3 separate regions of the Homo sapiens genome follow, and all the other regions are linked to region 1. The links come from fine-mapping of genetic effects on gene expression. A gene starts in region 1. Each other region holds a variant in brackets. All regions are shown on one strand. Distances are from middle to middle.

Region 1 (2,500 bases):
ACTGGACGACCCCTATGTCATGAGCATATAGTTGGGATTTGATGAGCTAGGACATGAAAAACCCGTGGCATAGTGGCTGGCATTCGGCTGCTGATCTTAAGAGTGGCACCTGGAGGCCAAAGGGCTGCCCAGCTCAGGCAGGCGATTTGCTCACTTGCTCACCCGCTTACCCTTCTCTGAGGCACAGGCTCTACCAACTCCTGCTCTGCAGGGACAGCCTCCAACCCACCTTCTGAGGATGTTCTGACTCTCACAGCGAGGCTGTGGCATAGGACTCCCAGGTGAGAGCGCATGCGGCCCCTGGTACATTTATAATCTGAACCTTGGCTCATCTTCCTAGTGGCCTGAGAGGTGAAGATGGAAAAGCTGAGGCTCTCTGAGGGGCTGGACTTCTTCTAGGTCATCCCCTATTAGAATAAGTGAACCTGAACTCAGGTCTCAGGTCTGGCTGAACTCAACATAGGGGGGCCATGGAGGATCACTGCCCTCTGGGAGGTGACACCAGGAGTCAGGGTGAGTGATGAGGCTGGGACTGGGGCCTCTGGACGCCCAGCCCAAGGCTCTCTATGTCACTTCCTGGCCGAGCATGGATGCTTGGAATGGCTTCTACGCCACTGAGTCTGTCTCCTAGTCCCTGTGCCCCGCAGGCTGGCTCTTGAGTCTTCTGTCTCTGCACGAAGCCATCCTCCTTTCTGCTGACCATGCGGCTACTACAGAGAGCCCTGCTACCCTCTCCCTTCTGGGTGAGTCTCCTTGGCCCACCCTACTCAATGGCTCGCTCACTGGGTGCCCTGGAGCCTCAATCTCCCCATCTTAAGTGAGGTTGAGACTCGTCTGGAGGAGCGAAGGACCCAGGGCGCCAGGCACCAGGCAGATGCCCCCAGAGCCGCCGCCCCCGGTCCTCCGGCCCCCGGTCTGCCCCGCAGCGCCTGCCCGGCCGCCCTGCCCAGCCACCCCTTGTACCTTGCTTCTTCCTTCGGTTCAGGGCGAGCATGTCCACGGCGTGGGCGACGAGCAGGAGCAGGCAGAGTGGCGCCCGCATCTGGGCAGCCGGATCCGGGCTGGCGCTCCCCAGGCGGCCCGACGGCCCAAGGGCCCCACGTCCCGGCGGCGGCACGGCGGGCGCGGGGGCTGCTGTGGGCGCGCCGGGCGCATCCGCCAGGCGCGGGTCGGTCCGGCCGCCAGGTCTAGTGAGGGCGTTGGCGGAGCCGGGGCACTGCCCTGGCGGGGAGGAGCCGGCGCGGCGGGGGCGGCGCGTTAACCAGCTCGGGGCCCGGGAGCGCGCGCGGGGAGGGGGCGGGGGTCACCCGGGTCGGGGCCCTCGAGTTCGATCTGTCCCGCAGCCGGCGGTCTTGCGTCTTTCCCGCCCCCAGCACTGCCCCCGAGCACGTGCACGTGCCCACCGCCAGCCACAGGTACGCACGCGCGCGCAGGTACAGATGCGCGGACACCCGGAGACCCGTACGGTCCCCCGCGCCCTCTCAGCGCCTGTGATTTTCTTTCCCTCCCCCCAGTCCCCTTTCTCTGTCTGTTCCTCCTTCTGGCCCTTAAGGACAACTCCTTGTCTCCTGCTTTCTCGGTCTTTCCGCGGCCCGCGCTCCCCTGCTCTGCCCCCGACCCTGCCTGGCTGTTCCTGCATCCTTTACTCTTGCCGGCCGTCTCTCTCTCAGGCTCACTGTCTGTGTCCTCCTGGCTGGGCCTCTGGTTCTCCCTTTTCTCTGTCTCTCCCTTCAACCCCATCTCTCCCCTTCTCCCCTCCTGCAGGGTGGGGTGTTTGCGGGGCTCCTGCTGCCTGGCTTTCTCTTTTTCTCTCTACTCTGTCTCATTCTTTTAACAGAGGCCTGAGCCCCTTCTGGCCACTAACCCTGAATGTTTCCTGTGCAGTCTGCGGGGATCATCTACTCCGACTCAAAGTGACCAGCACCTCATAAATCCACTTGTGACAGGGCTGGGGACCTGGACTGTGTTTCCTCCAACCTTATCACCAGGACTGGGAGCAGCTGGTTCAAGTTTAACCCTTTCAGAGCAAAATTCCTCCTTCAACCCGACAGCATGCTCACCTCTCCTGTCACTATAACCACCAAAAACAACAACAATCATGCTAGCTATCATTTGTGAGGCATATATGGTGGGCATTGCTAAGAACTTGACATATACTAGAGTCTTCAAAACAACCCAATGGTTTGGGTTTGTATTCTGAGTAATTCCACTTTTCTGGGGAGCAAAGGGAAGCTCAGAGAGGCCAAGTGACTTGCCCAAGGCCACACAGCAGGTCAGTGGCCATTCTGGTCCAGTGCCTGCCCCTCTTAGCCACTTCTCAGGCACAGACTCATCAGAATGGAAGAGGCCTTGGAGGGAGGCCTAGAGAAACTTACAGTTGACACTCTCTTGCTGAACAATTGTCCTTCCTTTTTCTTTTCTTTTTTTTTTCTTTTTTTTGAGATGGGTTTTCACTCTGTCACCCAGGCTGGAGTGCAATGGCGCCATCTCGGCTCACTGC
Region 2 (2,844 bases), 44 kb before region 1:
TGAGCGGGTGGGGGGAACTGCAGAGAGGGCCCTAGTGTGGCCCAGTTGGAAGCGGTGACAGGAAGAACCCACCAGGGATTCCTCAGCTCTGGCCAAGGGGTTGTTCTCTCCCTCTGGCATAGCATCCAGAAGGCCAATAGCAGCGGAACCTCCCCCTGGGCTCTGCCCAGACTGCCTCTCTTTGGCTGTGTGACCTCACCCTGTTTCTGAGCTTCTCTGTGAACTTCTCCAAGCTTGGCTTGTAAGAAGGGAGTGGGCGATGCCCACCTGACAGCAGAGTCTCCTTCCCAGAGAGGCCCCTCAATCCTCCAGAGAATGTGGGAGAGGCTGGGATTTGAAAGGATTGGAGCTGGGGGCAGGGAACGTCTGAGATGGAAAGGTTATAGGAGGGGCTTAGGCCCTGAAGAAATTTCATCCTGTAATTTGAAAATATTAAAAAACCACCACAGCCCCCAGCTGAGGACAGAGGACCAGGCCCCCCAAGAAGAAAGAACATGGCCAGGGAATTGCAGTACTGGAAACTTCTACCCTTATGTTGGTCTTTTAGAATTGTGAAAATTAGAACGTTCAGCATCCTAAAACTGGAATCTTAACAGAAAACACTATATAGTGTATGTATGTGTGTGTGTGTGTGTGTGTGTATATATATATATATTTATATATATATTTATTTATATAGGGGCTGGGTACAGTGGCTCATGCCTGTAATCCCAGCACTTTGGGAGGCTGAGGTGGGAGGATCATTTGAGGCCAGGAGTTCAAAACTAGCCTGGGTAACATATTGAGACCCCCATCTCTACAAAAAATAAAAAATTAGCTGGGTGTGGTGGTGTACACCTGTAGTCCCAGCTACTTGGGAGGCTGAGGCAAGAGGATTGCTTGAGGCCAGGAGTTTGAGGCTGCAGTGAGTTGTGATCGTACCACTGCACTCCAACCTGGGTGACAGATCAAGACCCTGCCAAAAAAAAAAAAAAATTAAAAAGATACACACACATACACACACACATACAGACTAAACTCTGTAGAATCAGATCATTGAGCCTTGAGGTCAGAATCAGAATTGCAGCTGCAAATCTAGACTCAGCCCTCTGAGCTGGAAGTCATCTGAGAGCCACCTCTCCCCTCAGCTTGTCCTGGAAAGAATGTTTGCTCTCACTGCCTGCTCCTAAACTTGTTTGCAATGAATAGATCTGGGGGAGGGCCCCAAAACCTGAATTTCTAAAAGGCTCCCCAGGGGATTCTGTTGTTGGGTCTTCCAGATTTCGGCAATAGATTTAATTTAGCCAGGCTTCCTCTTCATCACATTCATCACATGGGAAAACTGAGGCCCCGGAAGGGGAAGTGACTTGACCTGGACCCCATCAGATAGCTGGTGACAGGCTGGAGCTCCCACCTGTGCCTCCCAATGCCAAGGCCACTCTCACCAGCAGCCCAGGGTGTTTAGATGGCCCCGTGGGACTGTCAACCTCCTAGGTACCCCTGGTCCCTGAGACATCTGGTTCGTGAAACTGCGAGGTTCTGGGGATCGAGGTGTCACCCTCTTCTGCCTCTGGCTGAGTCTGCTTCTTGAGAGTAGCCTGGAGGGGCTGAGGGCCCCTCCTCTTTTATCAGCTCCCCCCAAGCTGAAACCCCACCCCAATCCCCAATACACTCTGACCCCTCTCAGCCCCAAGCATTCCTGTGAAAACCACTCCACATGTTTTAAATTCTGCTACTCCAAACTCAGCAGTATCAT[G/C]GTTTTGCAACACCCTCTTGATGCTCAAGAAGCATTTACAAGTTTCTTTTCCCTTTATTAAGAAAGTTTTAAAAAAAAGTTAGGGTCTTGAAACAATAACAACGGAGCATTTCAGAGGCACAAACGTTTGCAGAAGAGAAGCTGGTGGCCTGGCCAGGCGGAGGAGGGGGCTCTAGCTGTTCTCGGGGAGGTGAGAGCAGGGAAGTCAGAGAGAGGGTGGGCCTGCTGGGAGGGGGGGGTTCAGGCCAGGGCTCCCCAGCTGCCAGGTGGAGGGCAGGTCTGAGGGTGGGTGCTCTCTTGGGGTCGGGAATGTAATATTTCATCACCTAGAGCCTCTCCCCCAGCCTGCTGACCATCTTCCTTCCCCAGGCCACCCCTGGGCCCCTTGGAGCTCCGACTCTTGCTTCTCCTGCCCATTCCTGTCCCAGTCACGGAGCCCTACGTGTTCAGGCCAACCAGTCACGGCAAATACAAATCCCGTTTCTGAGGATTCCGGGGAGCAGAGCAGGAAGGGGGTGTTATGATGGCAGAAGGATAGGCAGTGAGGACAGACTTGCTTCCAAGCTGGGTCTGACCTGGAGACTCCTCCCAGCGTCGTTCCTGCCTAGGGCGAGGGGCGTCACAGCGAAGCACAGATGCTCAAGTCACTGGTGGTGGGTGTGGGCGAGTGTGGTGGTGGGTGTGGGGGAGTGTGGTGGTGGGTGTGGGGCAGTGTGGTGGTGGGTGTGGGCGAGTGCGGTGATGGGTGTGGGCAAGTGTGGGGGTGGGTGTCAGCGTGTGGGGGTGGGTGTCAGCGAGTGTGGTGGTGGGTGTGGACGAGTGCACGGATCTTCCCTTGCTCCCCACCCACAATTCCCTACATTTCCCCCCTCAAGTGACCCCCAAATTCTCCTCTCCACCGTGAATGTGCTGAGCAGAGCCATCAGGCAGAAGCAGAGCCTGAAGGCTTCCTGTGTGACCCTGGGCAAGCCCCTTCCTTCTCAGACCTGTTTCCCCACATGGGCAGGAAGCGCTGAGGTGGGGAACAGAGCTGCTGGATAATCTCAGCTTTCCTTTCCGTTTCAGTGGCCTCTTCTGGGCTGGGCAGGTGGATCCCCCAGCAGTGACAG
Region 3 (2,844 bases), 24 kb after region 1:
AATGTGCATAGATAGGTTGGCAAATGATAAAGCTTTACAAACTGTATTTATCCCTGTCAGCATCACTCAGATGAAGAAAGAGATATGACCAGCACCCCAGCAGCCCTACTGTTATCCTCTCAAGGAAAACTATCACTGCCCTTCTATTACTTTTATCACCCTAGACTAGTTTTGCTAATTTTTGGACTTTATATAAATAGAATCAAAAAGTGGATACAATTTTGTATCTTTCATCTTTGGTGCAATATTCTGTTTATGTGAATATTGCCAAATGGCCTGACACTCCAACCAGTGTGGCAGAAGGCCTGTTCCCCCCATGCAGCCACCCAATACATTTTAACTAACCTGTAGTCTGTATTTTGTTCAGTCCCAGTAATGTCCTTTACAGCTTTTTTTCTAGTTTGGGATTACATGTTGCATGTAGTTGTCATGTCTCTTTAGTATCCTTTAATCTGGAACAGTTTCTCAGCCTTTCTTTGTCTTTCATGATGTTGGCCTTTAAGAAAAATATAGGTTAGTTGTTTTATGGAATGTCACATCCCTCACTTTGGGTTTGTGTGATGTCTCCTCATGATTAGACTGAGGTTATGCATTTTGGGCAGGAATATCTTGTAAATGATGCTGTGTTCTTCTCAGTCTATCACATTAAGAGGTACACAATGTCAATTTGTCCCTTTATTAGTGTTAACTGATCATTTGGTTAAGGTGACATCCAGTTTCTCCACTGTAAAGTTGTTTACTTTTTCTTTTGTAATTAAAAAGTAATTTTAGGAAGCTACTTTAATATCTTTATCTATTAAATATCCTTTTCCTTGTCAAAGCCATGGTATGTTTAAAATGTGAATTTCTTTCTAAGTTCAGGGGTACATGTGCAGATTTGTTACACAGGTAAACATGTGCCATGGGGGTTTGTTGTACAGATTATTTCATTGCCCAGGTATTAAGCCTAGTACCCATTAGTTATTTTTCCTGATCCTCTCCCTCATCCCACGCTCCACCCTCCAGTAGGCCCCAGTGTGTGTCATTCTCCTCTGTGTGTCCATGTGTTCTCATAATTTACCTCCCACTTATGAGTGAGAACTTGTGGTATTTGGTTTTCTGTTCCTGCATTAGTTTGCTAAGGATAACGGCCTCCAGCTCCATCCATGTCCCTGCAAAGGACAGGATCTCCCCTTTTTTATGGCTGCATAGTATTCCATGGTGTATATGTACCACATTTTATTTATCTAGTCTATCA[T/C]TGATGGGCATTTAGGTTGATTCCATGTCTTTGATATTAGTGCTGCAATGAACATACAGTTGCATGTGTCTTCATCATAGAACAATTTATATTTCTTCTTTTTTTTTGTTTGAGACAGAGTCTTGCTCTGTTGCCCAGGCTGGAGTGCAATGGCACAATCTCAGCTCACTGCAACCTCTGCCTCTTGGGTTCAAGTGATTCTCCTGCACCACCCTCCCAAGTAGCTGGGATTACAGGTGCCCACCAGCACTTCCGGCTAATTTTTGTATTTTTAGCAGAAACGGGGTTTCACCATGTTGGCCAGGCTAGTCTCAAATTCCTAACCTCAAGTGATCTGCCTGCCTTGGCCTCCCAAAGTGTTAGGATTACAGGCGTGAGCCACCGCACCTGGCCTTTACATTCCTTTGGGTATATACCTAGTAATGGGATTGCTGGGTCGAATGATCTTTCTGTCTTTAGGTCTTTGAGGAATCGCCACACTGTCTTCCATAATGGTTGAACTAATTTATACTCCCACCAACAGTGTACTGAGCATTCCTTTTTCTTCACAACCCTGCTAGCATCTGTTATTATTTGATTTTTTAATAGTAACCATCCTGACTGGTGTGAGATGGTATCTCATTGTGGTTTTGATTTGCATTTCTCTAATGAGCAATGATGTTGAGCTTTTTTTCATATAATTGTTGGCTGCATGTATGTCTTCTTTTGAAAAATGTCTGTTCATCTTCTTTGCTCACTTTTTTAATGGGGTAGTTTTCTTGTAAATTTAAGATCCTCATAGATGCTGGGTATTAGACTGTGGTCAGATGCATAATTTGCAAAATTTTTCTCCCATTCTGTAGGTTGTCACTTTGTTGATAGTTTCTTTTGCTATGCAGAAGCTCTTTAGTTTAATTATGTCCCATTTGTCAATTTTTGCTTTCATTGCAACTGCTTTTGGTGTCTTCATCATGAAATACTTGCCCGTGCCTATGTCCTGAATGGTATTGCCTAAGTTGTTTTCCAGGATTTTTATAGTTTGTGTTTTATAAAATGTGAATTTCTTAATTGAGAGTAATGGGAAGCATTTATTCCTGTGCTCCTGAGTCACCGGTTTTCCTTTTTGATGAATTTTGATAATCATTTTTTCTCACTAAAATTTAAAGGTTTAATTTTTAAAAACTGAATGGTTTAAGCTTAGCCCTATAGTTCTTGAACCATGATTTTAATAATAATGATTTTTTAATCTTCATTGCTCTAGCACCTTTAAGAAGGATTCGTTTGAAAATTCACCTGTGTCTCAACCCAGGAATAGGCTTGGCCTTCCTTCTCTGATGGCAGCCAGGGAGCTTCCTCCCATATACCGTGCCCACGGGAAGGAACAGAAATGCTTCCTGTCACTCCCAGGGGTCTCCAGCTGTCATAAGCTGCCAGCTGGAGGTGGTCCAAGCCAAGATTACAGCCGGCCTTTATCCTATAGTTATCACCCACAAATCACCCCCTATCCCCAACCCAGGGGAGTCTCTCTGTCCATTCCATACCCCGGATACTGAACTCAGCTCCAGAACCAGGGACCTCCTGCCCATTCACGATGGCCTTGAGCTCCCAGTGCTGTCCCCACCACTCAA

The links. PIP is the estimated chance that this variant, and not a neighbour inherited with it, causes the effect.
Region 2: its variant is fine-mapped to the expression of RSPO4 in thyroid (GTEx, PIP above 0.99).
Region 3: its variant is fine-mapped to the expression of RSPO4 in uterus (GTEx, PIP above 0.99).

The regions. Positions count from the first base shown.
Region 1 is chr20:1,001,123-1,003,622 of GRCh38, forward strand. RSPO4 (R-spondin 4) reads right to left here and starts at 1,189. Exons shown (of 5, transcript NM_001029871.4): 1 at 964-1,189. The coding sequence starts at 1,042.
Region 2 is chr20:956,683-959,526 of GRCh38, forward strand. RSPO4 (R-spondin 4) reads right to left here. Exons shown (of 5, transcript NM_001029871.4): 5 at 1,770-2,844. Among named protein-coding and RNA genes, the nearest start is that of ANGPT4, 42 kb to the left of the region's middle. The variant G/C (reference allele first, on the strand shown) is at 1,736.
Region 3 is chr20:1,025,233-1,028,076 of GRCh38, forward strand. No RefSeq gene overlaps it. Among named protein-coding and RNA genes, the nearest start is that of RSPO4, 24 kb to the left of the region's middle. The variant T/C (reference allele first, on the strand shown) is at 1,238.